2 separate regions of the Homo sapiens genome follow, and region 2 is linked to region 1. Evidence: fine-mapped expression QTL. Tissue or cell type: lung. Region 1 holds a variant in brackets; the other region holds the start of a gene. All regions are shown on one strand. Distances are between the middles of the regions.

The links.
Region 2: it holds the start of DKK2, and the variant in region 1 is fine-mapped to the expression of DKK2 in lung (TOPMed, PIP above 0.99).

What each region holds. Positions count from the first base shown.
Region 1 is chr4:107,124,735-107,140,581 of GRCh38, reverse strand. It overlaps the pseudogene VN1R22P and the pseudogene VN1R23P. Among named protein-coding and RNA genes, the nearest start is that of DKK2, 96 kb to the right of the region's middle. The variant G/A (reference allele first, on the strand shown) is at 8,744.
Region 2 is chr4:107,028,236-107,044,082 of GRCh38, reverse strand. It overlaps DKK2 (dickkopf Wnt signaling pathway inhibitor 2), which reads left to right and starts at 7,770. Exons shown (of 4, transcript NM_014421.3): 1 at 7,770-8,713. The coding sequence starts at 8,492.

The DNA of each region.
Region 1 (15,847 bases):
TTATCTCTGTGGAAAGTGTTTTGGCTTTAGCAAGTTTTAAGATTCCTTTCTAGAGTTCTTGTTAATCAAAATTTTTACAACATGTGCATTGTTCATAGCTTTCAAATCATATGCTATATGAACATCTTATTTTCTGAAGTTCTGCTAATGCATATGTGTTTTTGGGCCCATCCTATATATTCTGGCTTTTAAATGAAGCAGATAGCAGGCAGTTGGGTGATTCCAGTAAGTGAGGCATCTTTGATATATGCTTGAAGGAAAAAGTGGAAAAAGTCAAGAGGTGTTGAATCTATTTTTAGTGTGGCAACACTTAGACTGGAGTTTCTTCCTTTCCATTTTTTGACTCAAATAAAACTACCTTTTCTTTCAATATCCCAGATTTGAAGAACCTGTAAGAATAAAATGTTTTAACCAAGCACTTTTGTTCTCCAGCAGCCCCAAAATGATTTATGTTTTCTTTGATGCAAGTCACTTAAAAATTGTAGAAATAAAAATAGAGTTTTAATGTATTGTTTAGGTATGTGTCATTCAGAAGCACAGTGCTTCCTCAAACATTACAAGTTCAGTGCTGTAATTACACACTTTATTAGCTGTTATACATTAAAATCTTGAGCTTTAAACAATTTGATTTTATGTTGGAATTAAATACATATCAACAAATGTTTAATTCTTTAGATCTAAGTTTGAAAAGAAAACTTTATACACCTGTCCACACCTTTATTTAGATGTTTATGTGTATATATGTGGGGCTTATTGTAGTTTTCAAATAATGTCACCAACCTAAGGATACACTTTTCCACATTGTAAGTTTGTACTAATCTGGAGTAAGAAGTCACTGTGTAACATTATTTCTCTGATTTGGCCTTTAGTTCACTTCTTTATTTGATAAATATGTTTGAATCCCCATTTCCTACTATGGAGTATATTGGACTTAAGCAATGATAAGTTAGCTGGATGGTAAATAATACCCTTGAAAAATGTCATTAAATCATTATTTTAAATATGTATGTTTTTAACTGACAAATATTGTATATATTTATTATAATGGAGCTAATTAATGTATGCATTGCCTCATATATTTATTAAACCATTCTTGAACCTACACAGTTAATAGTAAACCAAAATCCATCGGAAGTCAAGTTAGTCTATCAAACTGTAAACATTTGTTTTAGGCTATTGACTAAACATTAGATATGCAATGCAATTTTCATGATGAAATGACTAAAAGTTTATAAATTAAAAAATTACTTATGTTCAATAATCTAATGTTCTCATTATATTGATACTTATTTGTTATAACAAAGTCTTTCCTGCATTTTCAATATTTTTTCATAAAAAGTTGTGAGACATAAAAGTAGATAGACTAGTTAAAATGAGCCCCCTGTACCTACAATCCAAGTAGCATTGTTTTAAATATCAATTTTTCCCATCTGTGTTTTGCGGGGATGGGGTAGTGGATGTGGAGGTCTGTGTGTGTGCAGAATATAATATTTTAATTGAGGTTCTTGAGATGGCATCTAAGATTCAGCAGCCAAAGTCCTATTGGTTCAAAACATCTGAAAAATTGTTTTAAATTTAGGATGCAAATGCAACTGCACAATGATAATGACCTTCAACACATATCACCACCAACACTTGAACAATTTAAGCAAAGCAGGAAGAGGAGTGTGCTTAGTCCAGGATTAGAGTGATTAAAGGGAACCTGCTATACTTGTTTTATTCATCTGGTTGTTTGTAAATGCACAAGAAAGGTAAAAAATAGCTCACATTATGAACAACAAAAGTATATTTATCCACCATCCCACTCTCCCATATTAGCACTGAGTTCCCTGTTTATATTATTTGTACATGAAGAGCATACCATGTTTCTACTCTTAGCTCTATTTTCAGGCAGAGTGAGTTTCAGTTGATCAGCTTTCCCTACTCTCACCTGAGCTCCTTGTCAGCAAGCACAGGTATGTGAATGACCCTTGAACTCAGATGAGGACACTGCCTGTTGTAAAAATCACAAACTGATATACTTTTATATAAATCTAGCCCGTTAATCTTTTAGTGTGCAGTTTGAACAAAGTTCTTAAAACATTAACAGCCCACATTAAAAAATATGGAGACTTGACATGAAAACATGGATTGTCAACATTTTTAACTCTGATCTCACTGCCCTCACAATAGCCAAGTGACATCTATCCCGTTGAACAGGCACATTTTCTCTGGTATACTGCAGTTCCCACCTGGCCAGGGCCATTTATTCATGTTCTCTGTTAAAAAATCTTGAGTTTGCCAACCTTGGTCTACAACCATTAATAAACACTGTTCCCAACGTGTAAACTGACTGATCCAAAAGAGCAGACTTTCAAGGACAGAAGCCCTGTTCGTGACTTTGTAACTGGATGTTAAAATTCATATTTTTGACTAAGTAATACAGGCACAATAGATGTGGATTTCTAACATGTCTCTGCCTCTTGAGTGTCTTCCAGACCATCACTATGAGTCCCAGAAATTCCAGGTGGGCAGACCTCAAAGTTAAATGATATGAAGAAGAAATTTCCAAATAGATGACCCAGAACCAGTTAGATAGCTTTAAAACCCTTGAGGAGTATAAAATAGGATGTAAAAAAGAAGACATTTCTTTTTCTTAAGTTATATGAAGCTTTATTCATAATTGATACTGATTTATAGAATAAATGCACATAAATGGAAATTTATTACAACAAATAATATAAAGGAAAATATAATGCCACCAATCCAAAATGAAATGACAAGGTATAAAAACACAAATAAATATAGATCTGATTGAAGAACATAACTAATCAACTTTTCAAAATTGCCTCGTGGCTAAATACACTGTCTTTGCTACCAACCCAGGCAATTCCAAGCCCCCACTGTGACCATAGCCAGATTGTGAATGGCGACAATTCATTTAGTCTCTCTGTGTAAGTTACCCTTCTCTTTATAATGAAAGTAATAGTAGTGTGTGTCTCATAGATTTGTGAAGAACAAAAGCATTACCTCACGTATGCTCTTCATAGCAGTGATTCATATTTTGTATGTTTCCTCTAAATGTTATATATTTAACTCTTGGAAATCTCTTAATAATATTTAAAAACTACCTTAAAGATACCTGAGAGGGAACTAATTGTAAGTAGATAATATTGGATTTCAGCTGAAATGATAAATTCAGCTGTGCATCCTATTTCTATGCAAGATCCTCTGGCTCTGAACACAAGTATCAGTCTTGGTAAACAGAAAGGCCTCCAGAGATTTGGCAATAGGAATAATCTTCTTATCATAGAGTATATTTGAAATCAGAGAAGACTTCTTGAGTGTTTTCTAGGCCATCACTATGAGCCCCAGTGATTCTAGGTGGGCAGAGCTTAAAGTGAAAACTCCCAAGTACACTGGATTATCCACCATGCTGTGCTGGAGTCTGATCATGCTGATAATTACCATTTTTCTTCTTTGTGTGGTTGGCAAGTGGGCTAACACAAGCATCACCAAATATATATATATATATATATATATATATATATATATATATATATATATATATGAACTGTTATAGTATAGTTCATGACAAAGTAAGAAAATAGGAGGCCAGACACAGTGGCTCACACCTATAATCCCAGCACTTTTGGAGGCCGAGGCAGGTAGATCATTTGAGGTCAGGAGTTTGAGACCAGCCTGGCCAACATGGTGAAACCCTGTTTCTACCCAAAAATACAAAAATTAGCTGGGCATGGTGGGGCACTTATAGTCCCAGCTACTCGGAAGGCTGAGGTGGGAGGATTGCTTGACCCTGGAAGCAGAGGTCGCAGTGAGCCAAGATCATGCCACTGCTCTCCTGCTCTCCAGCCTGGGCAACAGAGTGACACACTCTCGCCAAAAAAGAAAAAGAAAGAAAGAAAGAAAGAAAAGAAAATAGTACAGTTGTCACAAAGAACAATCTTAAATTTAATTTCAAATATATCCATTACTATTTTAAACACAAATAGACTAGTTGTTCCTGTTAAAGTCAAGCATTATTCAACTATATTAAATTAGACATTTTTTCCAACAAACATAACTAAAACATGAGGGTTAAAGTAGAAAAATAAAAAAATACATTTTGTGTAATTTAACCAATTAATCAACTGGGATGGCCTTAAATGTATCAGATAAAATAAAGTATCAGATAAAATAAAGATAAATGGTATCAGATAAAATACTTGGTATCAGATAAAATAAAATTTAAGTTTAAAGAAGGTTGTAATTGTTGTAATTAGTGTTATTTTTGCATTTTTTAATGTTTACTTTTTAATATTATTTGATGGATAATAAATATAATCTGATTTTCGATAGATATACACACATTTATACACATACAAGTACATACACTGTGCACATATACCACCATTCTTTTGTAATGTTACTGTTATATAATTGTGCTTATAATTCTGTGAATCTATGGTAAATGAGTAAGTTAACAATTGAATATTGTTAAATAACATACAATTTAAATTTTTCTGATAATATGAAGGGTTTTTAAGAAATTTTATGTGGGAAAAGCAGAGCTTTAATACCCTAGAATCATAGTGCATAAAAATAAAGGGTCTAAGCATTAGGAAACATGCATCAGTTACTTCAGAGAGGCTTACCAGTAGCCAAGTAGAATTATTTGAAAGAGCCAAAGACAGAGGAGAGGGTATAAACAGATACAAAGGTGCTGGCCAGGACATGGATGCTTTGGGCAGCTCCGGATTCAAGAGAGGATCTAGGAGAAACGTCAGTCTTAGTAATATATTGGACCTGCCGCTTGTGCCTGTGCAGGATACATCCATGAAGCTTCTGGCGCAGAGCATGAACCCTGAACAGAAAACATCAGGGAATGATAATAATGCTGCATAGACTGAGTCTGTAGTTTTGTCATGAGCTATACCATAAGACATTTCAGAGTGCTGCTGCTAGTTGTCAGTCCCCTTTAATCCCAAAGGAGGACAGGTTAGAGTGTTACCTTCTTCACCTGAAGTCTATTGAAGTAATTCCATGGGATCATTCAAATGCTTCAAATATGTTCCCTATGATTAAAAGGCATCATTAGAAGATGCCTAATTCATGCCTTACTGAAACAGAAATAGAGATAGAGATAAAGAGAGAGAAGGAGAGAGAGACAAAGGCATAGAAACACATTATGTTTGGATAGTAACTATGCTTCTATTGAGTGTGGGGTAAACTGATCTCGTTAAACCAGATGTGGAATACCCATGCAAGAGAGGAGCGGTTCTAACTCTTCCTGAGAGGTGAGGGTGATGGACTCTGAAAGTGAGAGTCTGTGAGGAGTGGACAACAATTTCTTAGGAGGCAGGAATGAGGGTCCATGTGAGTGTGGGTGGAGAAAAGGGAAAAGCAAAGAAAAAAATAATGACACATTATATGGCAGAATTCACAGGTTCTACCCAGCTGAGAAGAAAGGAATATTTAATACTTTGCCAAGTTTAGATTTATATTACATGGGATTTGGAATTACTTACCAAATTGAAGTTGTTTGCAAATCGACCTGAAGAATGTTATTAACTGAACATCATCATTAAAAATATGTATGATTTCTTTTGTTCTCGTCAGGGTCAGGAGAAGATCAACACTATTAAATTCATTTTATTTTTATTTTTTTGATTGAAGAGATTAGTGTTTGTTTGTTTATTTATTCCCCCAGCATTAATGAGGTATAACTGACAAAATTGTATAAAGTATACAACATGATGATTTGAGACGTATATGTGTATGTGTCTCTCTCTCTAATATATATGTGTGTATGTATATATTTCACTATGTATATATATATAGTGAAATGCTTATGACAATCAAGTTTGTTAACACATATGTCACCTCACATAGTTACCCTTTTTCTTTGTGGTGAGAACATTTAGGTTCTCTTTTAGCAAATTTCAAGGATAGACTATAGTATTGTTAAGTATAGTTATCATGCTGTACATGAGATCTCCATAACTTCGTTTTCATAACTGAAAGTTTGTATCTTTGTCCAGCATCTTCTCATTTTCCCCAGCCTCAGCCACTGGCAATTACCATTGTACTCTGTATTTCTATGAGTTTTACTTTTTTACATTCTGCATATGAGATCATAGTATTTGTCTTTCTCTGTCTGACTTATTTGACTTAGCATAATGCCCTCAAGGTTCATTGGAAATGGATGAGCACTTACGTTGCTTTCACTTCTTGGTTACTGTTTTTTTTATAATGTAGAATTTTAGGATTTAGTAGCACCAGAACACCTTAATAGCAATCCCTACATGAAACTTTTGAATTGAGGCAATACAAAACTCATGTATGATTCAGACTCTTTCTTCCTCCGTAAAAGCCACCAACAATATTCCAGATGATAAGTTCTTTGTCATCCTGTGTCTTGAGTCACTGATGGTACAGAGATCTAAATTGATCTATGTTATATACATAGTATGAGTGATGTATAAACTTGTGTGTGTCAAACTATAGAAATTTGGAGATTTTGTTGTTACAGTGCTGTAACCTACCCCACCCTGACTAATCCACCTAGTAAAGTCTTACATTGAACAAGTACGCAAGAGATTTATTCACTTAAATGTACTGGAAAAAATTGATAAAACACAGTTGATTTTCCTGACTTATGGCCCACATCTTCTGAACTTTAGGAAACTTTAGTTCATGCATGGAGACTAAAAGAAACATAAGAGAGACATAAGCCCAAAAAACTGTTAATACAAAATCAACCTCTGTTAAATGTTGTAGTGGAAAAATAAAGGGCTCTGGGAGTAGAGTGAGGTTATATTAACTCTGCTTTGCAGATCTGAGAAAGACTCAAGGAGGATATATAATTAAATAATTAAATCTATGCCTAAATAACTTCTATTGTAGGCTCTTGGTTACTGTTAATAACGCTGCAATGAACATAGGAGTGCAGGTATCTTTTTGAGATACTGATTTTATTTTTTAGGGTATATACCCAGAAGTAGGATTGCTGGACCTTATGGTAGTTCTATGTTAAATTTTTGAGGATCCTCTATAATGTCTTTTATAATTAAATGAAAAACACTCCCACCAACAGTGCACAAGAATTTCTCTGTGTTTTTACCAACACTTGTTATTGCTTGTCTTTTTGATAATAGTCATTCTAAGAGGTGTCAGCTGGTAAGTTTTTGTAGCGTTAATTTGCATTTTCCCATGTACCTGTTGGCCATTTATATGTGTCCTTTGGAAAAATATCCACTCAAGTTCTTTACTCATTTAAAAAAATAGTTTTATTTGTTACTGTGTTATTGAGTTGTATGAATTCCTTGTATATTTTGGGTATTAACTTCTTATCAGATATAAGGTTTGCAAATATTTCCTCCCATTCTGCAGGTTGCTTTTTTCATTTTATTGATTATTTCATTTGCTGTGCAGAGCGTTTTTAGTTTGATGGAGTCCCGCTTGTTTATTTTTGCTTTTGTTGCCTATGCTTTTGGTGTCGTATTCAAAAAATAATTGCCAAGACAGATGTCAACAAGCTTTTCCCCTTTGTTTTATTCTAAGAGTTTTACTGGTTTAGGGGTAACATTGAATGTTAGAGATTGCTTTGGGTAGTATGGTCCTCTTACCAATATTAATTCTTCTGATCCATGAAGATGGGATATCATTCCACTTATTTTTATCTCCTTCAATTTCTTCATCAATGTTTTATAGCTTTCGGTGTAGAGATCTTTCAGCTCCTTGGTTAAGTTTATTCCAAGGTATTCTTATTTTTTGGTAACTATTGGAAATGATATTTTAAAAAATTTAAGATAGTTTCTAGTTAATACATAGAAATGCAACTGATTTTGGTGTGTTGATTTTGTAACCAACCACTTTACTGAACTTGTTTATTAGTTCTGACAATTTCTTGGTACCACCACTGAATATATTTTAAAGAGACACAGGACACAATAACAAAACTGTGCTTTGATTATGTCAGGAGTTATGCTTGTGCACTGTACTGGATACAAACAACACCAACAGCGCCACAACAGAAACAACCAGGCTCTGTGGAGAGGGTTGTCTTCATGCTCTTAGACCTTCTGGTTTTTGTGTACAGCTTTATCAATTTGCTGATAGTCTGATTATCCACTCACAGGTCACCACTATATTAGCACATCTTTTCTGTTATCTTTCAAACCTATTGAAACCATGATTGTCATTAATGTTCTCTGTTTTTTATACTACATTCTACTTTCCTCTAGTTTTTCTTAAAATCTTCAATTCTATCAACTTGCGGCTATTTTCATAAAACTAACTTCTGTTTTTACATTCTGAGCAATTTCCTTTTGTTGCCCAAAAGCACATCCAAGATAGGTATAAAGTAGAACAGCTTCACTTACAGTCACTTAGAGAAGATGATTGAACTCATTAACTGCTACCTTCCCATTGTCAGTGAGTTCTTGTCTGGGGATTTTATGACATGCTATATTGTCTCCATTTTATTTAAAAATAAAATGAAACAAGTATTTTGATGTATTATAAAATGTATCTAGATTTAGAGAAAGAGAAATAAATAAACATGAGAGGAATTGAAATTAATATGGATTAAATTAAATCCCAATAATTAAGGAGCAAGAGATAATCAAATTTGTTAGCATGTGAAGTACATCCTAAACAATTTCCTATGGTGGGGAAAAAAAGGCCTAACAGAAAAATGCAAGAATAATAAGTCACCTTGTCAGAACCAGTTGACACTTAATAATCATAAATTTAACTAATT[G/A]GGCTAGGTATGGTCGCTCACACTTATAATCCCAGTGCTTTGGGATGCTGAGGTGGGAGGATTGCTTGAAGCTAGAAGTTCGAGATTAGCCTGGGCAACAACGTAGTGAGACTGTCTCTCTAAAAAATAAAAAATAAAAAAAAATTCAGGGGTGTAATTAGCGTCTCAAATATTAAAAATTCATGTTACTTTATCAGTCAGTTTTTATTTATCAAAACCTCTTTTACCAAGTAGGAAGTAAAAAAAAAAAACACTATTGCTTAAAAATATATTTGTAGTACCTAAGGCAAAGGAGTGAATATAAGCAAAAAATCTGAGACTGATGATTCATTAGAACACTGTGAATTCTTTGGGAATAGAAATAACATTTATGACTCAGAGCTTAAGTAGACTGATATCCAAAAAATGACAGAAGAATGAAAGAATAAGTGAATTAATGAATGAACTAGTGAATGAATAACTCAATGCCTAACCTCAGAAATTTTCAATAATATGCATATATGTTAGATTTTACTCTCATCTCTGAGGTTAGTTCTTCACTTAATGGATTTACTTATTTTTCTATTTTTGAAATGTTAAACCTAGATTGATGAGATCTCAGAAACTTAGTCTAATCTTCTCATTTCACAAAAGAGAGACCTGAGGGAAGAGAGGTCAAGGTAACCCAATAGATTCTGGAGTAGAACCCAGGTTTTAAAATTTCTCAAACTGTATTCTTTGCACTGTAGCATTCATCTGAAAAAAAATGCAATAACTTTAAAAATATAGATTCAAAATGAAATTTTCAAAAATTAAATAGTAAACCATATTCAAGAATGATTTGGAAGCTTCTTCCATGGTGCTGGAAGTTAAAGGGGTTGTCAGATCTGATCAAGCACAGACAATGACCCTGATTTTATTTAACATTTCTCTTTTTGGGAAATGTGTGTTATCAAAGTTAGAAAGTTAGAGGGTGTAAGAGAATATTATCCTGAGATCTTAAGAACTGTGACAGTTAGAAAATTAGGGAAATTTAGCCAGTAAGTCTTCTAGAGAAAATGACTCAAATATAGGCACAGTTATTAAACATTCTCTTTTTGAATATTCTATTCAGAATCCTAAAAATAAAATAAGAAAAGTGATTTCTAATAAAAATCACTGCACTTTCATTCAAAAACTTAGAGTTGTTTAGCAAGTACCTTCATTCAGCATCATCTCAGCAGACGCTATTGGATACCTCTGTGGTATAATACAAGACTGACTTTGAAAACTGTCTACAGGTTGCTCATCATTTGAAGTAATTCGCATAATGGCAAAAAATACAAGGCTAATACTACAGTGTTTTCAGAAACAATGACTAACAATTGCAGGATATAAATGGAAAAAGTGCCATTGATGATAATGCAGGGGCTTTTAAACACTTGTAAGGGAGGCCAATTATAGTATCTCCTGCTACCTTCTGCCTTTCAGTATAACCCTACCCCCAGGAATGGGAACATGTATCACTTCCTCCAGAACAATTCCTTTCAGTGTAATCATGAAGAAAACCTCTTTTATGCAGATCCCCGACTTCCTTCCCTCTGATGTCCAGATCTTTGAAGCTCACTAAGTCACACAGCATTTCTGTGCATTGTTACCTCCTCCTCAATGAGGCTGTTGGGAAACACTTCAAACAGTCTGTTCCGGAGGGGTACCAAACTGGCAAGGGGAGTTGGGGGGAAAGGAAGGGAAATCAAGTCAATGCTTGCCAAACAGTGAAAAAAAAATGTAGGAGTTGGTGGTGTTGGTGGAGAGGGAGTAATTTTTATGCAGTCAAAAGAAATGGTACCTGAAAGAAATGTTTAATTCATTCTGAAGAAAAAAAAATGATTCAGGAGTTAAATGATTACTTGAAATTTGTGAAAGTTATAAAATGGTGTAAAGAGAATAATTTGAGGTGTTAATGTGAGGCCTGAAAGGGAGTGGAGATGGCTTTGACTTCCCTAAGGTTTTCAAAGGCTCTGAACTTCCTGAGACACCAGGCACTCAGCATCAGCCCAAGAGACAGCAGCGGCTGAACTCTTATGTGGCTACATTCATTCCAATGTAAAATCCTATGTTTAAAGTTTCTCTCAGTGACATGTTCCTTGTAATAAAAAATAACCATATTAAATATGTACAGTATAATGGTATATTGTTTTTAAACAAGAGGCTTTTAAAGGTTTACTGCAAGGCATCACCTATTCTTTAAGTTAAAATAATGTTTGACAGGTCAGTAATGAGACATAAAAGATTTTTTTTAACCAGACAATTTTGTACAAATAAAGGGCAGAAATAGAAACATCAAAGCTCAGGAACTGTGTACATTGCACAAAGCATTAAAAGTTTCTGTTCTCTTTAAAATTTTGACATATGTTTTGTAGTGAGGTTAGAACTATTAAGGGAATGCAAACGTTTGTCCAAACAGTTATTTTACCCCTCACGTCTTCCCATGTATGTGAAGGCTGCTTTGAAGTTTCCCAGAAATAAAGGTGAGTTATCAATGTGCTATGCTGGATAGAATTAGTATGAACAGAGAATCCTGATTAAGGCATGGAATATAGTAATCTATCAATTAAGTAGGTTTATTCTTGATTTAAATGGCATTTTGATTTCTTAATACAGGGATTCCAAGAGAAATATGTCCTCTTTAGTCATCCCAGTTCTTTTAGGGCTGAGAATTGCCAGAGTTGAGGAGCACTGGAAGTTAGTATTGGCTGATTGGCAGTCCAATTAAAAAAATGTGTGTGGAGTACTTCTCAACTGGTGGATGTAACTTCATAAAAATTTGCAAGAGGTTTTTCATAACAATTACATTTTTCTGATTGATCATTTATCATTTGATTTGTAGTTTTTTTTTGTTTAGCTTCAGCAGATTATCAGGATTTCTTCAATGAAATAAGATAGGTGTGATCATTTCTGAAATTGAGTGTGAACACTTGACAGAAATGCTTCTGTAGAGGAATCATTTTTAGAGTATATTATAGCTTAAGGGACAGGGTGGCTCTTTAGTTTTCTCATAATCAACTTTTCCTAATCCTGATTTCTGGAGCCAAAATATTCTTTAAATACGCAACATCTGACATCGTATAATGAAAGAAGCATGAACTTTGAAATCAGACAGATGTAGATTTACACCTAGTCTCTACTGCTTACCAGATGGGGGACTATGAGAATGTCTACAAACTTTTCTGAGATTTGGGTTCCTCATCTGTAAAACTGGAATAACAATACCAATTTGTGGAGGTTTATTATAGAAATTAAGGCACAATTTATGTAAGATTTAACATTTAACAAATAGCAGCTTCCCTATTCCACCTTCAACAGAAGGAGCACTGACTGGACAGACTTCCATTTGGGAGCCAGAAAGAAGCATGTTCAGGATTATAAAAGGCAAACTATTCCTTATCTTTATATTAGATGTTTATTTTGGTGGTTTCAAAACCTATCATTCCAAAAGCTTGAATGTTGGAATCAGAACAAATGAATGAAGGGATTATGTGGACTTGTTTCCTTCTACTCCTTCTTATCATTTCTAACCCCACCCCCAGCATGGCTTTAAAAATAAGCCGTTTGGGGGATCAGCATGAGCACATCAAAGGTGAATACGGATTTCTCAAACACAGCTTGTCCATTGCTGAATGTAGGGTCTTTTTCTGCCACCACCAGACATTTGAACTAAAAAGCTAGATTTCTCTTGGCCATCCTGGCACTACCCACAAACAGCCCAATTCTAAGAACTTGTACTGCTACCTTTAAATGAGTACGTTTTTCCTTTCTCTCTTCCCCTTTGTTTCTATTCAAATTTTGATACTCTTCAATTTTTTTCTAGATTACTGTCAAGGCCTCCTGGTTGGTGTCTCTTCCTCTGGCCTCAATATCATCCAAATACAATGCCAAGTATGTAACTCCCCTGCCTAGAACCATTAGATTGATATCTATAGCATCGAAAGTTAAAGTCTGAATTCCTTGGCTTGGTGAACAGGCCCTTGTGATGTGGCTCCAGCCTATGCCTTCAGCCTTACATCTTGCTGTGCCATTCTTGCTTCCTAAGCTTCCCTGGCACTGAATAACAGCCCATGCTGCTACTAAACTCTGCAGCCTTGTACATGATATTCCTTCTACTTGGATGTTTTTTTATCCTATTGCCACCTGGAAAATTTCCCAGTTCGAACCTTACCTTCTGTGAAATATTCCCTGACTCTCATTTTTTACCATTACCTAATCTTCAAAATCAGAGAGAATTAACCATTCCCCTCTCTGGACTCTCTGATTCAATGATTGCACTTACCGTATTGGATTAGATGTATATTCTTTTCCTGGATTGTCTATGAACTACATGAACAGTGAATATATTTATTCATCCTTGTGATCTCATAATACTCATATAATATCATAGATATCATTTAAGGCTGGTTGAGCCACTGAATTTAGGAGATAGAATCAGGCTACATGGATGTGGCAGTATAAGAAAGAGATAGATGTGATGAGTTTAGGTCACAATTGCAACAAGCTCAGTATTATTTAGCGTTATTTTGGCATGGTAATTTTATGTCATGCAAATCTATCAGTAGTTTAAAAAGAATAGTGAAAGAAAATTTAGTGCTAATGGTATATTTGCTTCAAAACGTCAGTGACTTTACCCTATAACTTTTAGAGCCATTGTAACAGTTAGGATGTGGCCTCACGCTCTTTGAACAAACAGGCTACAAATTGCTGTGGGCCAAAGAAAATATTGTATTTCTCATGATTTCATAATAGAAGTATTTGTAAAATATCAGGAGGTAGAGGAAGAGTGATTACTTAGACAACAGAATTAAAGAAGGCCTTGCAAAGGATTTGATAATTAGGTTGAAACTTGAAAGATGCTTAGCACTTTAATGGCTCAAAAACAGTCAAGAAAAAGACACTATTCTTAGAGGAAATGGTATGGGAAAAACTCAGTCATAAAACACATGCAGTGCCTGGGGCAATGCAAATAGTCTGGTACAATGAACTGAGAAAGCAGTGAGAGATGAGACTGAACAGGTAGGTCGGAATTCACATTGTGAACAGTTGAATATTTGACCTTATAAGAAGTCTTTCTGTGGCCGGGCACAGTGGCTCACGCCTGTAATTCCAGCACTTTGGGAGGCCAAGGCAGGTGGATCACGAGGTCAGGAGATCAAGACCATCCTGGCTAACATGGTGAAAACCTGTCTCTACTAAAAATACAAAAAATTAGCCAGGCGTGGTGGTGGGCGCCTGTACTCCCAGCTACTCAGGAGGCTGAGACAGGAGAATGACCTGAACCCGGGAGGCAGAGCTTGCAGTGAGCCGAGATCGCACCACTGCACTGCAGCCTGGGTGACAGAGCAAGACTCTGTCTCAAAAAAACAAACAAACAAACAAAAAAAAACAGAAAGTCTTTCTGTGATGTCCCAAATGAGAAGCTATGTGAGGCTTTTGATCCAAGTGGTGATGTGACGCTAGTTATAATATTGAACGATGCTTCAGATGGCTGTGAGTGGGAAGAAAGTGTCCACTACTCTATGTCTCATACGGCATCCTGGTCATTCCTATACTATATAACCGGGAAAAGGGGGTTTGTTATGCTTAAAAGTTAGATTTTTCTAAATCCTGATAGAGAGGAGAGTTATTTTGTATGGTATAGCATGAAAGCTGGAGTAAGTTTGCATTCCCATCCCCATTCAAACATCAGAACACCTCGGAGAGGCACAGGTCAGAAGGTAAAGTGTCTCTCCTTCCAGGCTCAATGTGAAGAGCAGGATATAATTATCTTTATAAAATGAGACACTCCAGGAGTTGAATGGCTCACTTAAAACCCAAGCAAACTTAAAATGTCTGATCCCCAGTCTATCCACAAAAAAACCCTTACATGCCCCTCAGTCTATCCACAAAAAAAGATTTGGCTGCATACTATTTCCTTGGGGGTGGGGGAAAAGAATAGAGTATACATTTCTTCACACATCTAAAGATTCTTTTGAACTCATTCTTCTTATATCCCTACACACTTTTATTTGAAAGCTGCAATGCCCACAAATCCAGGCAGATAATTTACATTTTTGATGAAAGCAATTTCGAACGATTTTTTTCTCTGTATTTTTTGGCCAAAGTTTTTGGCAAGAGGGTGAGTCATAGACTCATAAAAGAGATATTTGGGTCATCAGTGATGTTACTATAACTCTGAGCCTATAACAGATTTCAGATTTTAGTTGCTTGTATTGTAACAGCTAAATACATATTATATTATTCCAGGCTAAATAAATTTAGTGGATATCACTTCTGTCTTTTATCTACTGGAATTTATTTCCCAAAGAAGAAGTGAAGCTCATGGGTTCATAGAAAGGAGACATCATTGTAGACAGAACACTATAAATTTTACAACATTAGGCCCATACGCAGCTTAGGATTTGGCTATATAGAAGAAATGTAAAGATGTTGCTGGTAGAATGGATAAAGTATGTAAGAAACAGAACACTTTCATTCATTCATTCATTCATTCATTCATTCATTCATTCACAGATATATATTCAGTGCTTTCTAGGTGTTAAACACAGAGCTGGGAACTTGGTAGATCTTAAGAAAGAATGCAAAATAAACCAGGAAAGATGTGTGATAGGTAGATGTAGAGGGCTTCACATCACTAGTTATCACATTATAATTTGTCTTGGAGGCAATAATTAGTCACTCAGGAGAGCACTGCATTTGAAAGACTAATCCAGAGGCATTGCCAGATAACTAAAAATGGAAGAGAAAGAAGGAAGGATAACAGTTAAGGGAGGCGCTTGTAAGAGTCTCAAGTGTGAGGGAGCAGAGGCTGTATTGGGTTGATGACTGAAGAATGAAAAGGAATGGAAAATCAGGGAGTATAGATCAAGAAAAAAACAGAAGAAATTAGCAACTATTGGGGATACAATGGAGGGAAAAGAAAAATATTTTAGCGGGGGCATTGTTGCTTAAATACTGTCTATTATAATATCTACCTTGGTACATTTCGAACACAGGAATTTCCTTTTTCTTATGATTTAATCACTACTATGCCTAATTAGGTCTAGAGTGGAACATGACTGGTTATCTGGAGAAATATATGAAAATGTAAGTGTA
Region 2 (15,847 bases), 96 kb after region 1:
ATCATACAAATTAATTTAAAATCAGCCATCTTAGGCAGTATCTACACTTGGCTAAAGAGAATGAAGAGTTTGGACTATAACATGTATAACTTTTGGTTAGAACTTGCAGCTGGGGGCTTTTCTAATGAATTACCTTCTAAAATTATGCTAACATATAGGAGGAACACGAAGTAATTTAGTGAATTTGGAAGTTGTATTTAGAAGGCTGGAAATTAGCTTACCTTTTCATGTTAAAAAGAGCCCCAGTTTATAGCTATAGTCCATATATTCCTGGCCTCAGTGGTAGCTACCTCCAGTGTTAAGTGGTGGGGTGAGGTACATTGAATATTATAAAACAAAAAGATGGTTTTAAACTTTCAGTACTTCTGTTAATACTGAGCATATTTATACAATACATTTTGATATATAAAAGGCAAATTGATCAAAGGTTTGAGAGTTTCATTTTATTATTAATTTAAAAATACAACATTGATTGGCATTGGAGGACAAGGCTAACCCAACAATTTCAACTGTAACATATAAACAGCTGTTATGTTCTTGGAGATATTGATTGTTCTTTGATATATACAAATGTTCACATACATTCTTGACAATAACAACCAAAATACATTTTATAAATTTCAGAAAAAAACAACAAAAAGCTAAAGTAAATTTGAGCTTATTCCAAATCAGATTTCTTAATAACTTAAAGACTAAGTGGTCAAGTGCACTTATATTAAAAGTGATTTCATTACCAGTTTCAATGAAATTAGATATCCCCTCTGTTTTCACATATTTAGCACTGCCTTGAATTAATTAAAGGTACTGTGATTCCAAGGAACTATTAACTTTCTGAGTAAATTAAACAAATCAAATTAAATAAATGGACAAATTAAGTTAGTAACAGAACAACTTGCTGATTGCTAGATCACTGTAGTTTTGTTTGCTGCTTCCTTTTCCTTTGATCTACCATGATTTCACTTTTCTATCATGTACTGATATGTTTTATTGTTTCCATCTTTCATTAACCAGGCATTTATAAAAAATGTAGAAATGACTTTATCTTCTTGGCAAATTGCTTGCATTCTCTCTTTTCCTTTTCAGGGCCCCAGTGGAATATTGACAATCACAGTCAGACTCAGTTGGCTGATTTCTAATTTAGCCATAAGTCACACAAAAAGAGAAGGTGAAAAAATGAATATCATTAACACAGATCCAGAAATAAAATGGTAATAAAAATATTTAAATAATGTTTTCAAAATAAACATATAACACAGTTCTCCTTTGAGTTTAGGAACTCTGAGAAACTGCTGTATGTCTTGTGTACAGAAATGTTACTCTTTTCCCAAGTGTTTTAATATGCAACTACATGTATAAATCTATCTGTTATGAGCTGAATTTTGCCCCACGCCCTGCTGCCAAGTTCATATGTTGAAGCCCTAAGTCCTACTACTTCAAAATGTAACCACATTTGGAGATGAGTTCTTTAAAGAGGCAATTAAATTAAAATGAAATTAGGGTAGGTCCTAATCCAATATGACTGGTTTCTTTATAAGAAGAGGAAATTTGAACACAGACGTAGGGATGACCACAGGAGGACACGGTGAGAAAGTGGTGATCTGTGAGACAAGGAGAGCAGCCTCAGAGGAGCCCAAACCTACCAACACCTCGATCTTAGACTTGTGGCCTCCTAAATGGTAAGGAAATGCATTTCTGTTGTTTCAGCCACTAAATCTGTATCATTTTGTTATGGAATCCCTAGAAATCTAATATGCCATCTGTAGCAGAGGGCCTTTTTAAGTTCTCTGCTATATGATTTTTAAGGCCCAAGAGTTTTACTATATTAGGCAAAGCTTCAATACATGTAGTCATGTACTTATATTTTTGGTGTTCTTTGCAACCGTTTACCAAATGACTTATTTTAGCTCCTTCAGAGGAATCTGTGTTGGGGCCTGCTACAAGGGTGAAATGGCACCTCCAATTTCTTCTGATGGGTTCCCCTTTTCTTGTGTGCCTTCCACATTATTGCCATAACTGGGCATTCGTTACTACAAATGGAGACACACTGTGCTGCAAGCTACTCTTTGCTCAGTATTATTTTAATATTGGACTGTACATTCATTGTCTTAAAGGGATGAATTGTGGGATACAAATAAGAGACACTATATGTAAAGTGTTCAACAAACCTGGCACATGTAAGGCATTCAATAAATCTGACTATTATTATTACTTTTATTATTGCTGTATATTCTAAGCCAGTTACCTATAAAATTCCTTAAGCTGACTGCAGCATAGTGTCTTGACTTTCTTATATCCCAAACTATTTTTGAGCCTAGGTATTATGATTTATACCTAGAGCATCAAAAAGTAGGATCTATTACAAATGAATCTTCCAAAGATAAACTAAGCACATTTTTCATTTTCTGTTACCAAGCCCAGTTATGTTTCAAAGACAGATTTTTGAGTTGCCTCTTGAGAATCTATGTCTTTATTATTTGCAAGTAGTTTTTCCATTATTTTTAGTCTGCACCACAGTTTATTTTATGTGTGGTAAGAGTATAGTTAAAGTTTTGCCATATTCATTAATCATAGGTTCAGATAATTGATCAGGAATAAACACATTGTACAATGAATGGATTAGCTACCCTGCCTTTTCATTTTTAATGTTCCCTACTTTAAATGACCAAATCATTTCTGACTAAATAAATTGCCATATTTTTAATAGTTTCCCCATTTGAGTAATGTTCATTTTGGAAATTGTCTGTAATACTAACAGGGTAGAAATCAATCCATCATGTATTTGGTGGGTTGACGGCTCACAGAGTATTTTGTCCAATAAAACAATAACAAAAACAGGCACTTAAAATTTATCTTTGATCCAAGAGCTGGACACCTCTCCTCTGAAATATTATAAAAATTAGCACAGTTCTCAACTTACTTTGAGACCACTGCAGAACCCTAGAGACCCGAAAGGAACAGAGTCTGAAAATCACTGGTCCAGATTATCTAAATGTTGTTTGTTTTGTTGCTCATCAAGATGAGATTCCTTGGAATTGAACCTCACTCAAGAATTAAACATATGATTCTTTCACTGCCAAGTATTACTTGGTACTTTAGTACTGATTCAAAAGCTGAATCTTGAAAAAACCTGCCAGAACTCAGCAGTGAGAACTTACCAAAAAGGATATGCATTGTACAGAACTAACAAAAATTTTATATCGTAAAGGAAAATGTTTCTTATTAAACATTTGATGACTTTTTCTAATTCCACCTCCATCTATGGTCACATATATGCACAAGGCTCAGCAGAAGTTTTTATCTGCCTGAGTTTCAGATTATGTTATTTGCATTTTTTTTATTGTTTGGGTTCAGGCTCAAGGGGTAATATCTGTTCAGTAATCCTCTTTCATTTAAGTGGCAGGTGAAGTATGGATAAGATGACTAACTCGTTAAGGTTCGAAAAAGAAGCCGTTGGCTGAGCAATTGTTTCAGATTGATTTACTGTGAAATCTTCTGACCCATTTCACTTGTGCATGTTTTTGTAAGCATAGCTAGTGAATCAAATGTAGGTGATGAGATCTTTTTTATTAGCTGGTCCTGTTGTCCATGAGACCTTATCAAGATAGCATCAACAACTGAAACTAATGCAGGGATCAAATAGGAGATGCAATTTTTTCATATCTGGTATGAAAATTATTCCCATCAAGAAACACAAAAAATTTTCACAATATCAATGCAAGCTTACATTTGTTACCAGGTATTTAGAATTAATTTGCAGCAACACATAAGACTGTTGTTCTTAGGCAGAGGAGAAACATAAAACTCTCAAAGTATGAGTATTACTAGGCTACAGAGCCAGGTAGCTTGGTTTACTATGGAGAGGGAAAACCCATATAACCTTATTTTTCAGATCCTTAACATCCATCAAGTTTCAACCATACATTAAAGATTTTCATGTCTATTCTGTGTGTGCAAGATGCTTTGCGGTCCTGTGGGACCTACCAAAGACAATCTTACTTCCCAGGTTTGCTATTCTGTTCTTATTGACCTAACATGACCATCACTAGGGTCATTTCTTTGGGTTCAACGACAAATGTAGAAGTATTGTCTCTATGTACACCATTAAAATGTGCATTTAATTCTGAAGGAAAAAAAGAACTCTGGGGGACATATCTGATCACTTATATTCCCATAGTCACATGAATTCAAGCCAGCTTGGCTTGAATTCAAGTTGCAGCTATCCTGTGACAGATTGAACTCTGAGACTGGCATAATTCAGCAGTGGATGAGAATAAAGGCTCACAGCAGCAACTTCTGAGAGGGGCTAGGAGCAGATTTTAGTATATTAAGGTGTCTACAGAGCTCCAAGCCCCTTTAGAGGCAAGACCCCCATTCATTCACCTCTGTGTCCTCAGGGCCCCATACTTGCTTCACGTACGGGGAATGCATGAACAACTGCTAAAAAGGCTATTGTAGGAAATATTCACTAATGCAGGGAGAGAGGTAATGGGATGAAAATTAGTAAGCTTCAGTAAACAAGACTAAGGTAACAAGTTATATACTTAACTTACCTTTGGGATTAAGTATTCAGAAGGAATCCAGGATCCAGAAACAACTGCTGAGAAAGTAGTGGCTTTTCTATGGAACCAAAATGGCCCCACAGCTAGAGGAGCAAAGATAAGAGGGAATGTATGGCCAAAGGAAAAAATGTCCATTAAGGCACTTTCTTCTGGACAGGAAGGTTGTACATCCTGCTTTTGTACAGTCTTGTTTTTAAATATCTACTCTCTAATTATATTATTGCAAATGGCATAAAAATCTACTTTCCCAAGTAAAATATGAAGCTTTTGTCTTTACACTTAGGAAAACACACACAGGAAAAACACATATGGGGCCATGACAGTAATCCACAGGATTATGTTTATTTACAGTTAGTTGATTTTGTGTGTGCATATCTACTTGTCAACATATGGGTCATGTATGTTTGTTTCTGTCTGTCAAAAAAAATTTACACAAAGCATTTGGGTCATGAATGAAATTAGTTTTTGACTGCTTTTTAGCCTAAGGCGTAATTGTGTATGTTTTAGCTTTTGATTCTATATGTCTGATTTTGTTCTATATGGAAGAATGTTTGTGTAAGTAGATTTTATGTCGACTTTTAATTTAACTGTATTTGTAAAAAATTGCTTTTGGAACTTGCGGGGTTTGAATAAGCCTCTGAGATAATGTGTTTAGGATGGTACTCAGAGCTGAGAGTAAATGTGTTGTGCTTGATATATGTTTTCTGTTTAGCAGTACATGTGAGTAAAGTTAGGCCTGTGTATGTGGGATATTATTTTATTTAGAGGTAAAGAAAGAAGGAAGTGACAGAAATAGGCAAAGCATCTTCACATTTTCTCATGGTTCATTTGGGTTTGTTCTTCAACATATGGTCAAAGTCTACACCCTTCCAAGTGAATGTAGAGTGATCTGTTGCCTACATGTTTAGCTTCTATCTTTTCCTTTTGCTCTAAGCTACTTTTCAAAAATATTTAAACCAGTATACTCCTAACTTAAGTTTCTCAATTTCTGTCATGCTTTCTGATTGGCAAATCAGAATGAAGGCAAAAGATATACTCTTCTGTAAAGTCTAAGCTTGGAATCGTTAAGTACTTATTTATAGAGTAACGACCCATTTCCTTGCCTTTTATTAGTGCCTAGAATGCCTCACTTAACTTTATAAACTTACAAATTTATTACTGGGCATATATAGATGTTAAATGTTCTTACTACAATCATGTTATATGTATAAATACATATATATATTATACATGTATATAAAGTCACACACATATAAAATTTATATCTATATAGCATGAGATCTACCTTCTCAATAAGTTTTTAAAAATACAATGCATTATTGTTGGCTATAGGTACAATACCATATGACAAATCTCTAGAGTTTATTCATCTTAGTTAACTGAAACTTTATGATCATTGATATAGTAACTCCCCATTCTCCTCTCCTTCCAATTCCTGGTAACCATCATTCCAACCTTTGATTCTATGCATTTAACTATTTTAGGTACCTCCTATAAGTGGATTTGTCTTTCTGTGATTGGTCGAGTTCACTTAGTATGATGTCCTTCAGGGGTCACCCATATTGTTATTCCTGGCATATTTTTAAAAAGTGGAAAAAAAACCCCACACACTAAAATGTGAAAAATCTCTACCTTAAAGAAAGGAAATTCAAAAGATAAGAACACATGCCAGAGGGTGCATATTTTAATCCCCGTTTCCTTGTGTATTAAAAAAAAAATCTGAAAATGAAGAATTTCAGGGCAGACAGACTCATAGGTCAGGACTGAGAAATTTGCAAAACTGGAGCTGTCTGGGAGAAAATAGCTCTAAATCCACACTTTAGAACTCTGCGTTGTTTTGGGGGAAAATAAGAGTCACCAACGTTCTCACTTAGCGACAAGTTTAATTCGTACTCATGGACATGCGCCAGGATCAGGTGTGAAAGCTGTGAAATCTAGGTCCAAAAATTCTGAAGAGGATGCTGCTTGTATCCTCCCCTGGCGGCTAGCTGCCTTCTAACTTCAAGTTGTGGCTCAATGCTTGGATTTCTCTGCTCCTGGACATTAGTGTCTGCGAAGCAGAAATGCAATAACTTTCGAACAATCCCTTGCTTTGCTTGGAAAGTCTCGCACTTGGCCACCAGACATCACCGAACTCAGCGCTTGTCTCCTGCAGCAATTCCGTGGCTCGCTGAACGGCTGCCACTGGCGCCCCCAAGCGCCAGCGCGTCCCAGTCGTTCCCGGAGCAGCCTTCGACCTTCGGCCGAAGGGAATTGGACCTGGAGAGACCCGGGGGCTGACAGGAATGGCTTCTCTTGTAATTCACTGGGGCTAGAAGGCAGGAAGCCAAGGAAGACAGGATCTCAAAGGCTCCCTGCCCCCGTTCATTCCTATCTGGGATTTCCTATTCGCAAAAAGAGCAGTTGCCTGGCATGGTAAAGATGCTCATTCGAGCTGTGAGGTCCAAACCCTTGGAGCGTACCCAGAGCATCCCCTTCTTCCCAGTCCCTCAGAGACATAGACATATTCTACGAGTGCGGCGGGGCCCGGGGTTCCGAAGGAGGAGACTAAAAAGACCCAAATCGAACAGGCTCATCTTTTCCCCTCTTTGGTCTGCCCCTTTCCTTCCAGACCCTCTATCCGGATCATTGGCCACCCCCTGGCGCACCTATGTGGCTCCAGCTTCACACACTCCCTGGGAGGCACAGTCTAAAACCAAACGTGAGCTCACAAAGAACACAATACTAATGAGCAGATGCGCAGATGCTCACTTCTCTAAAGCTTCCATAGGGCTTTTCCAGCTCTCCTCGCGGAGTCAGGGGCTGAAGATGGGTGGGAAGATCTAAGAAAGGGTGGCAGCGATCAAGTGGTGTCAGCTTGCCCCACTCCGTTTCCACCTTTGGTCTCTGCCAGTTTCCAAAGACCCCTCCAACCGCTGGAGTTGTTGTCAGGAATTAGGAGCCCCTATGTTCCATTCACCTCATGGAAAAGCTAGATCCCCCTTTTCCAGTAGTTGTGGGTGGAGACAGAGCGGGAGGATGAGGAGGAGGAAAAGCTGGAGTGAAAGCCGCAGAAGCAGAAGCAGCACGCAGAGAGGAGGGGGGCGGAAGCGGTGGGGAGTGAGAGAAAAATTTTCACTCTTTGTCACTCTTGAATTGGGGGCGGAGGTAAAAAAAAAAAAAAAGTCCTCACTGTGGGAAGCTATAAAAAGCAAAGAGGACTGGGGAGAGAGCAGAGAGAGAGAAAGCGGGAGCCCGCGGCGAGCGTAGCGCAAGTCCGCTCCCTAGGCATCGCTGCGCTGGCAGCGATTCGCTGTCTCTTGTGAGTCAGGGGACAACGCTTCGGGGCAACTGTGAGTGCGCGTGTGGGGGACCTCGATTCTCTTCAGATCTCGAGGATTCGGTCCGGGGACGTCTCCTGATCCCCTACTAAAGCGCCTGCTAACTTTGAAAAGGAGCACTGTGTCCTGCAAAGTTTGACACATAAAGGATAGGAAAAGAGAGGAGAGAAAAGCAACTGAGTTGAAGGAGAAGGAGCTGATGCGGGCCTCCTGATCAATTAAGAGGAGAGTTAAACCGCCGAGATCCCGGCGGGACCAAGGAGGTGCGGGGCAAGAAGGAACGGAAGCGGTGCGATCCACAGGGCTGGGTTTTCTTGCACCTTGGGTCACGCCTCCTTGGCGAGAAAGCGCCTCGCATTTGATTGCTTCCAGTTATTGCAGAACTTCCTGTCCTGGTGGAGAAGCGGGTCTCGCTTGGGTTCCGCTAATTTCTGTCCTGAGGCGTGAGACTGAGTTCATAGGGTCCTGGGTCCCCGAACCAGGAAGGGTTGAGGGAACACAATCTGCAAGCCCCCGCGACCCAAGTGAGGGGCCCCGTGTTGGGGTCCTCCCTCCCTTTGCATTCCCACCCCTCCGGGCTTTGCGTCTTCCTGGGGACCCCCTCGCCGGGAGATGGCCGCGTTGATGCGGAGCAAGGATTCGTCCTGCTGCCTGCTCCTACTGGCCGCGGTGCTGATGGTGGAGAGCTCACAGATCGGCAGTTCGCGGGCCAAACTCAACTCCATCAAGTCCTCTCTGGGCGGGGAGACGCCTGGTCAGGCCGCCAATCGATCTGCGGGCATGTACCAAGGACTGGCATTCGGCGGCAGTAAGAAGGGCAAAAACCTGGGGCAGGTAGGAAAACCCCCAAACACATTCTTCAGACAGAAGAGGCAGGGGCCAGCTCTCTTGGGCTAGCGGTTTGCCATTGCATCTTGCAACATTCGGAGCGTGGCCCCAGATACAGAGAACAGGCGGCTGGGGAGGGATTCACCGAACAGGGTCTGCGTGGGCGGGGGGTGTCTGGGTGGCTGCTGGTCCTGCACTGCACGGAGTCAAAGGGTTAGGATTCTGTCTCGCCTTTGCTCTGGGGCGTGGGCACATATCAAGATCTAGTGCTTTCCTGTGGAGAAAGTGGTCAGGATGGTCCTTCCATTTAACACTGTGATGCAACTGATGAAGATGTTAATAGCATTTAACCTATAGCACCTAATAACGTGCCAGGCACAGTTCTAAGCGTTTTACATATTCACTCATTTAATCTTCACAACTCTGTGAGCTAGATGCTGTTGCTTTCCCATTCTGCTAATGAAGTAATTGAGGCACGGATTGATTAACGATTTGCCCAAGGCACACAGCTAGTATAAGTGGCAGAGAGGGATTTCAGTCTAGACATTGAGATACTGGGCGTTTAACCATTATATTTTACAATCTGGAGGGGACATTACTCCTTTTCAGGGTCTCCTTCCCTTCCAACCACTTACTCTCTTCAAAGAAGTAAGGTCACAGACAAAACAACTCCAGTAGACGCGCATTTCTCACTCACGCAGAATTGTACATAAATCACCCGGAAGGAAGCAAAATGATGAGATGACAATGACAGCGTCGTAGGCGCCAGCGATACAGCAGGACACTGAAGGCGTTTTTGAGAGAGGGAACTTTCCGCAGGCGCCTCTGTCTCTGTCATACAGACAGATAGATTGAAAGCCACTTGCAAACTGTTATACAAATAGACACGCACAGAGACGAGCGCGCACACTCGGTACCAGTTGTGGCTGGCGCGCTGTGGCCAGGAGAGGGGGCTCTGTGGGCACTGGGAATCATGACAGCTCCCCCTTCCGCTCCTTTTGTGGGAAGCCAAAACTGAGAAAGCCATTTTACCAATGGCACACGCACCTCGCACAACACAAGTGTCAACCCCTGGCAGCGGCCCACGCCCCAGAGATCCGAGTTTCCTTGGAACCGACTGATGCTGCTGTTTTGCGCGCTCTCGGTGTCCTCCGCCGCCCCTGTCCACAGCGCAGCCAGCCGGCTGAAGGTTGGTTGAGAGGGCCGAGCCATTCTGGGATGGACAGAGAGACAAGACCCGGGCTTGGCCCCCTACTGCCCTCTCACGGGGACAATTTTGCAGTTTTGCTAGTTTTGCAGTTCCAGAACTCTTCCCAGAGCTTTGAAGTGTGAACCGTTTCAGCTATCCTTTCAAGGGATTACAAAATCAGCAATCAGATTTTTTTTAAGGTCTCAGGAAAAATAAGAAAGTACATATACGTTCAGGCAAACATAACCGTTGCACATCCTCACACACGTGCACATGCCTACGCGCTTATGTGACCACTTTCCTTCGCTTTTTCTCTCCTGCGAGTCACCCCAGGATTTTCAATAGCAATGGTCCTAACAGTTTCTTAGAAGTCTGTCATGAAATGGAACAGGGATTAGAAAGAATGGGTGCTCTCAATCCAAATCATGACTCCTCTAATGCTACTGACTTCAAATTTCATGTTCCCAGTTGAAGAAAGCTTAATGTGTAGTTCCCCCAAGGACACAGGGAAGGAAACCTCAATAGTCCTGAGGTTCCTTTCCATTCTAATCTATGTATTTTCTGGGAATTTTTGTAAAGCGCTTTTTGTTTCTGTTCCACTATTGGGCCAACATACCTGATGTTCCTCTGTCAGAAAATCAGTTACATGCGTCGTTTCATTAGCCTTAGCGTTACACAGGGGAGACTGAGGGATGCATCCCAGAACCTAGCTTCTTCTTTATGTTTTAATACTGTATCTGTATATAAATCGGTATAAAATATGTTTTTGTGGTGCTACCTCTCCAAATAGCTACTTAATTATGCTTCTTAAAGAGTTTGGAAGTCTACTTACATCGCCTTAAATTGAGAATTTATTTATTTATTTCACAAATGAGTTGAATTTCTTATATGCCTTTCATAACATAGCAGTTCTATGGAATATATTTTATTATATTTACTTAACTGGAATCCTAGATTGTTAAAATTTGACATTAGGCTTGTGAAAAAAATTGTTAACATATTCAAGATGAAGGTAAAACAAAATAAAATACTGGGTTGAATAGCAGGAGGCTAGCTGGCAAATGTGAAAATTTTATTTTGTGTATTCTTCTTTAACGAATGATCTAAAGTATGTACTGTTATGAAGAAACAAATAGTAAAATATTTTCTCTTTGAAGTGAAAAGAATAATTCTTTGGATACTTATGAGTCTCTTTATCTTTTTTATTCTATAGTTATGTGGTCACCAACATTCTTAGTATTATTATTTTCAGAAATGAAATGGAAATTAGAAAGGCTATTACAGGGAAGATGTTATTTCCTTTTGTAGAGAAAAACTCTAGAATAGAAAGGTAGCTGAGCTGAATTTTTATGCATCACAATAGTAAATATGATTGAAAATATTGGAATTAATGTGTCAACTAATCAAATTAGCTAATCATGTAGTATCATCCTAAGACCTAATAAGTTTTATTTCCCCCAATTCCCTTTATACTTGACAGATGATGTTGAAATATATTCCTTTCAGGGATACAGGAGGAAGAAGCTCTAGGATGCAGCTTCAAGTAGGCAGATTGGAAACTCAGTCCTTGGTGTTCTTTCTCTTAAATGGATGTTGAAAATAGCCTATTTTAATTTTTCAGGATAGAGAATTAAATATTGCCACTGCAGAAGAAATTCTTGAATAAATTTAGTAATTCGTTAATCTACAAAAGTGAAAATGAGACTATATGAGCTCTATAGTTTTATTGAAAGTTGCCTGATTTCATATAAAGATAAACATTCTTATTTACAGGAATTCTACTTGTTCCATAGGCAAGGTGGATTATTTGTAATATCACTTCTAGAAAATGTGGCTTTGAATTTTAGAAAAAATTTAGAGAGAGAAAATCCACTGTTCTCCAGAGGTGTTACATTTCTCAATTTAAGGTTGGCTTTCAAAAACACAGTATGAGTTATAATGGAAACTGACATAGGAAATTGAGAGTGATAGTATTCAGATGATTGATACAGAATTAGCAAAAAATGAACTGCTGAATTATTCGCATCAATGTTTTAATTTGCCTTTTCATTTGCAGCTATTGCTAATAAGTACTGCATGTATGTGCTGTATATGTATACAGGCTAAATTAAGTTTCAGACTGTTACTAGTATATTTACATAATATATAAATATTTATGCATTTTAATATATATGTCAATTTCTAAGGATACTGTTTCAGATGTTCTAAATTAAAAGTAATTTCAAACAAAATCTTCAATATCATGTGAATAAATATATTTTGATGAAGTATGCCATTTCTCGATACTATCTCTAAAGTTTGAGGTGTTGACTTTTATGGACCACCTTCAAAACAAATTTTAAAAACCCAAACTACTAAAAAAATCAAGCTTTGCAATTCACATATTTTTCTGTGTGAATGAAAAACCTTTGGATTTGTGTTTGTAATTGCTTATTTTATTCTTCTCGTTTTGTCTTTCTGAGACGGGCAGATGAATTTAATTTGAATGCAATGCAGTAGCATTTTGCAATTCTTTTAAAAGTGACTAGAATAGTGATATTTATAGTTATATTTTAAATGTAGATAAACTTTCTGGCATGTGTTTCTAAAAAGAAGCTATGGTTTAACACAAATTCAGATTCTATGATTTTCTGATATGACTGGGACACTTCAAGGATAGTGGTTTGGATGAAGTTATGTTGTGAGAAAAGAATTCTTGAAATTCATTGAAAGAGAAGCTTGAACGAGTTGACTAAAGAGCACTAATATTTGTAGACTGCATTTTCTTTAATGAAAGTGTGCTGTATCTGTATGCACAAACATTCATGAAAGTGCTCACTGAAATAAACTATATACTCTAATATTCGGTAAGGGATCTCTTTACTTTCTGAAATTATCCATGACTTTTTTTTCTAACCTCAGCCCAACTTTCTCCTGCTTAGGAGTAAATAATCTGATAGCCTCTCTGGACATTGACTAACACTAAACACAATCAGGAAAGCAAATCATTTTTACGATTAAATTTTAAAAAATAAAGGAATTTGAAATAATCTACATTAACGTTCCTTTCCTCTCACCATGAATTATAGAAAATTGATAGTTGATACAAGTGGAAAGTTAGTTCTTGAATAGCAAGAAAAGTATTTTAATGATAATCTAATATGAACATCCATCATTTTATTTTTGTGTTAGACTAGAGAGCGCAAGAGGACAAAGTTGCTCAAACTTACTCCAGCTGTGACTCTGACCCTGTCATAATCTTCTTGAATATTCTTCTACAATACAAACTTTTGCACCCTCTTCTCCTTTCCAAGATATTTTGAAACTTATAATTTTAAGATTAGGTAAGGCAATGTCATAGAACTATAGCTAGTATATTCTGATCTAGGAAAATATTGGCTCTTCTTCATTTCCTTACAAAATTGCTTTAAATGTACATTAAAATAATCGGTTACATTTTAGAAGAAATTTATAATAGTTAACATATTTACCATTTTAGACTCAGTCTCTAATGGCTGTTTATTCTTTAGTATTGAATTAACAGCAAAATCAATTACAATCAAATTTCTACCTGTGACTTTCTGACGGCCTGTTGGAGTTGTTTTACTTCCTTATGCCTCTAGTCACTTGTGCTCACTTATAACAAGGAGATAAACCCGTTTTTAGTTATTTATCTGATTGTTCAAAAGGTTTATGTGATATTTGTGTCTGCCTGAGCCCCTTACTACGTCCTTTTTTTAACAGTCCAAAAGCATAAACCAAAAGGAAGTAAGGCTAATCATAATTGATAGACATATTGCATTATGTAGCATCGCTTTAAGATTACACAGAAAGATTTAATATAGAATGCATAAGAAAAATTTAGTATTACTATTTAAGGTAAGCAAAGGTCAATTTTCTGTTCCTCCTCTGTCCACTCTTGACAGGAACTAGAGCAGAATAACATATTTTTCTCTAATTGTAGTGTTAGGACAAACATAAAGCATTCTTTCAAAGAAGTCAGTCGATACAGCATTTGGTAGGTTCTTTTCTTTGTAATGGCAAATTTAATCAAAGAAAACTTTAAAGCAGAAAGATTGCAATATCCTGTTAAATTTTTTTTAATAGAAGTAATTAGTTTATGTATCACTAACAACAGAATTGCTACTCTAACATGTATTCCACAACCCCTGAATCTGCACAACAGATTATATTTTGGGAACCTGAATAATAGTTTAGATTTTTCTATGTGCTTTAAATATAAATTCAGAAATAAAATCAGCAAAAATACAAAAGTAGTCAATTTTTAAAAAAATGTTACTTATCTTTTTCCACAGAGTCAAAAGGGACAAATGGACATCAGATATCCTTTTAAATACTTTGCAGTATCTAATTTAAAACAAAATAATCTAGAGCAAAAAAAGAACAAATCTACAATTTTAAAAAATCAATGAGCAAATAAGTACATTAAATGACAAAACAAATAAAAATATCACAATTAGGGAAAATGACTTCTCAAAGTGGTAGTTCTGTCCAAACCTTTCCCAAGAGACATTAGATCTTCATGTTATACTTTATTATCCGGAATAAGATTGTTCTTTCTTCAGGGAAATAGAAGAAGTGAGCGATCTTCAGGTATATTATTTCCTTAAACTAGCTTGCAAGAACTTACGGCACACAATAACTTATAATAAAGGGTACCATTAATTGATTATTCACTCTATGCCAGGCATGAAACTAAATCGTCAATTGCGTTAACTCTTTTGATCCTCTAGGCAGCCTTTTGAAGCAAATCCTAGTATCATCCTTATTTTTATAAATGATGAAACATTTAATAAAAAAGACATTCCTGAGACATAGAGAGGTTATACAATGTGTACAAGTCACACCACTGTAAATGGAGAAAGCTAAAGTTCAAACCTAAGCAATCTAATATTAGAACCCATATATCAAACCACCTGCTTATGCTGCTACAATATGCTGTTTATTCTGAATTTAGGAAGAACATGAACCCTTACTCTTCTCTCTCTATACTTGAATGACATGGGTATAACTCCAATTTCATTAAAAGTCACAACAAAATCCAAACTCCCTGTTGCTCCCAGCTGCTATTCTGAGAAGTCTAAAGTATGTTAGTACTTCATGGATACTAAGGCAGGCACCATAGCAATACGTTATTTTCATCCCTGCCTCTACTTGCCCCCCGTCCTCCCATATACCCCTACCTTTCTTCTACTCTTTCCCATTAAAGTATAAATTATAGTGTCACCCCAAGTAGAAAGTAGATTCTGTTGCATAAAGCTTATTCTCTCTTCTTTCTTCAAAACCAGCAACAAACTCCCCTGTCCTCATCTTTCTGAATCTGAATGTCGCTATGTGACAGAGAAGCACAGGCTTTCCCAATGGTTTCTCTGCAATGGCTTTGTTTGTTTGGCTGACATGTCTTACATCCTGATCAGACTGGGGAAATTCTCTAAATTTAGAGTCTTGTATTGCTTTTGCTTTTTCCTTACCTTTGACCCTTTCTAGCTGCCGTTCAGATAATTAGATGATCTATATCCACATCACAGCACTACAATTTCAAACAGGTTTTAAATTCCACTCACCACTGATTAGTTTAATGGGTTTGGAAAAGTCACTTCATCTCTCTAGTCTTTTCTTTTTTTTAGTATACCCATAAAATAGGGATAACAATAACAACAATAACGTAAGAGTAATAATACTTAACTTACTGGGCAATGGTGAGGATCACATGAGATAATATATATGAAAAAAACTCTGAAGAATAAGAAAGTGCACTTAGTTATTTTGCTGATGACATCATTACCACTGCCATTACAGAAATAAGTAAAGTCAAATGCTCATGCACCAAATAAGTGGCCTCTTAATCTCCCCTCCAAGTTGGGCAGGGGTGACTAAACTAATGCATATGATGTACAAGAAGGAAACAAATGAACTCAATTACTCTGAGAGTAAGAATTATAAAGCAAAAC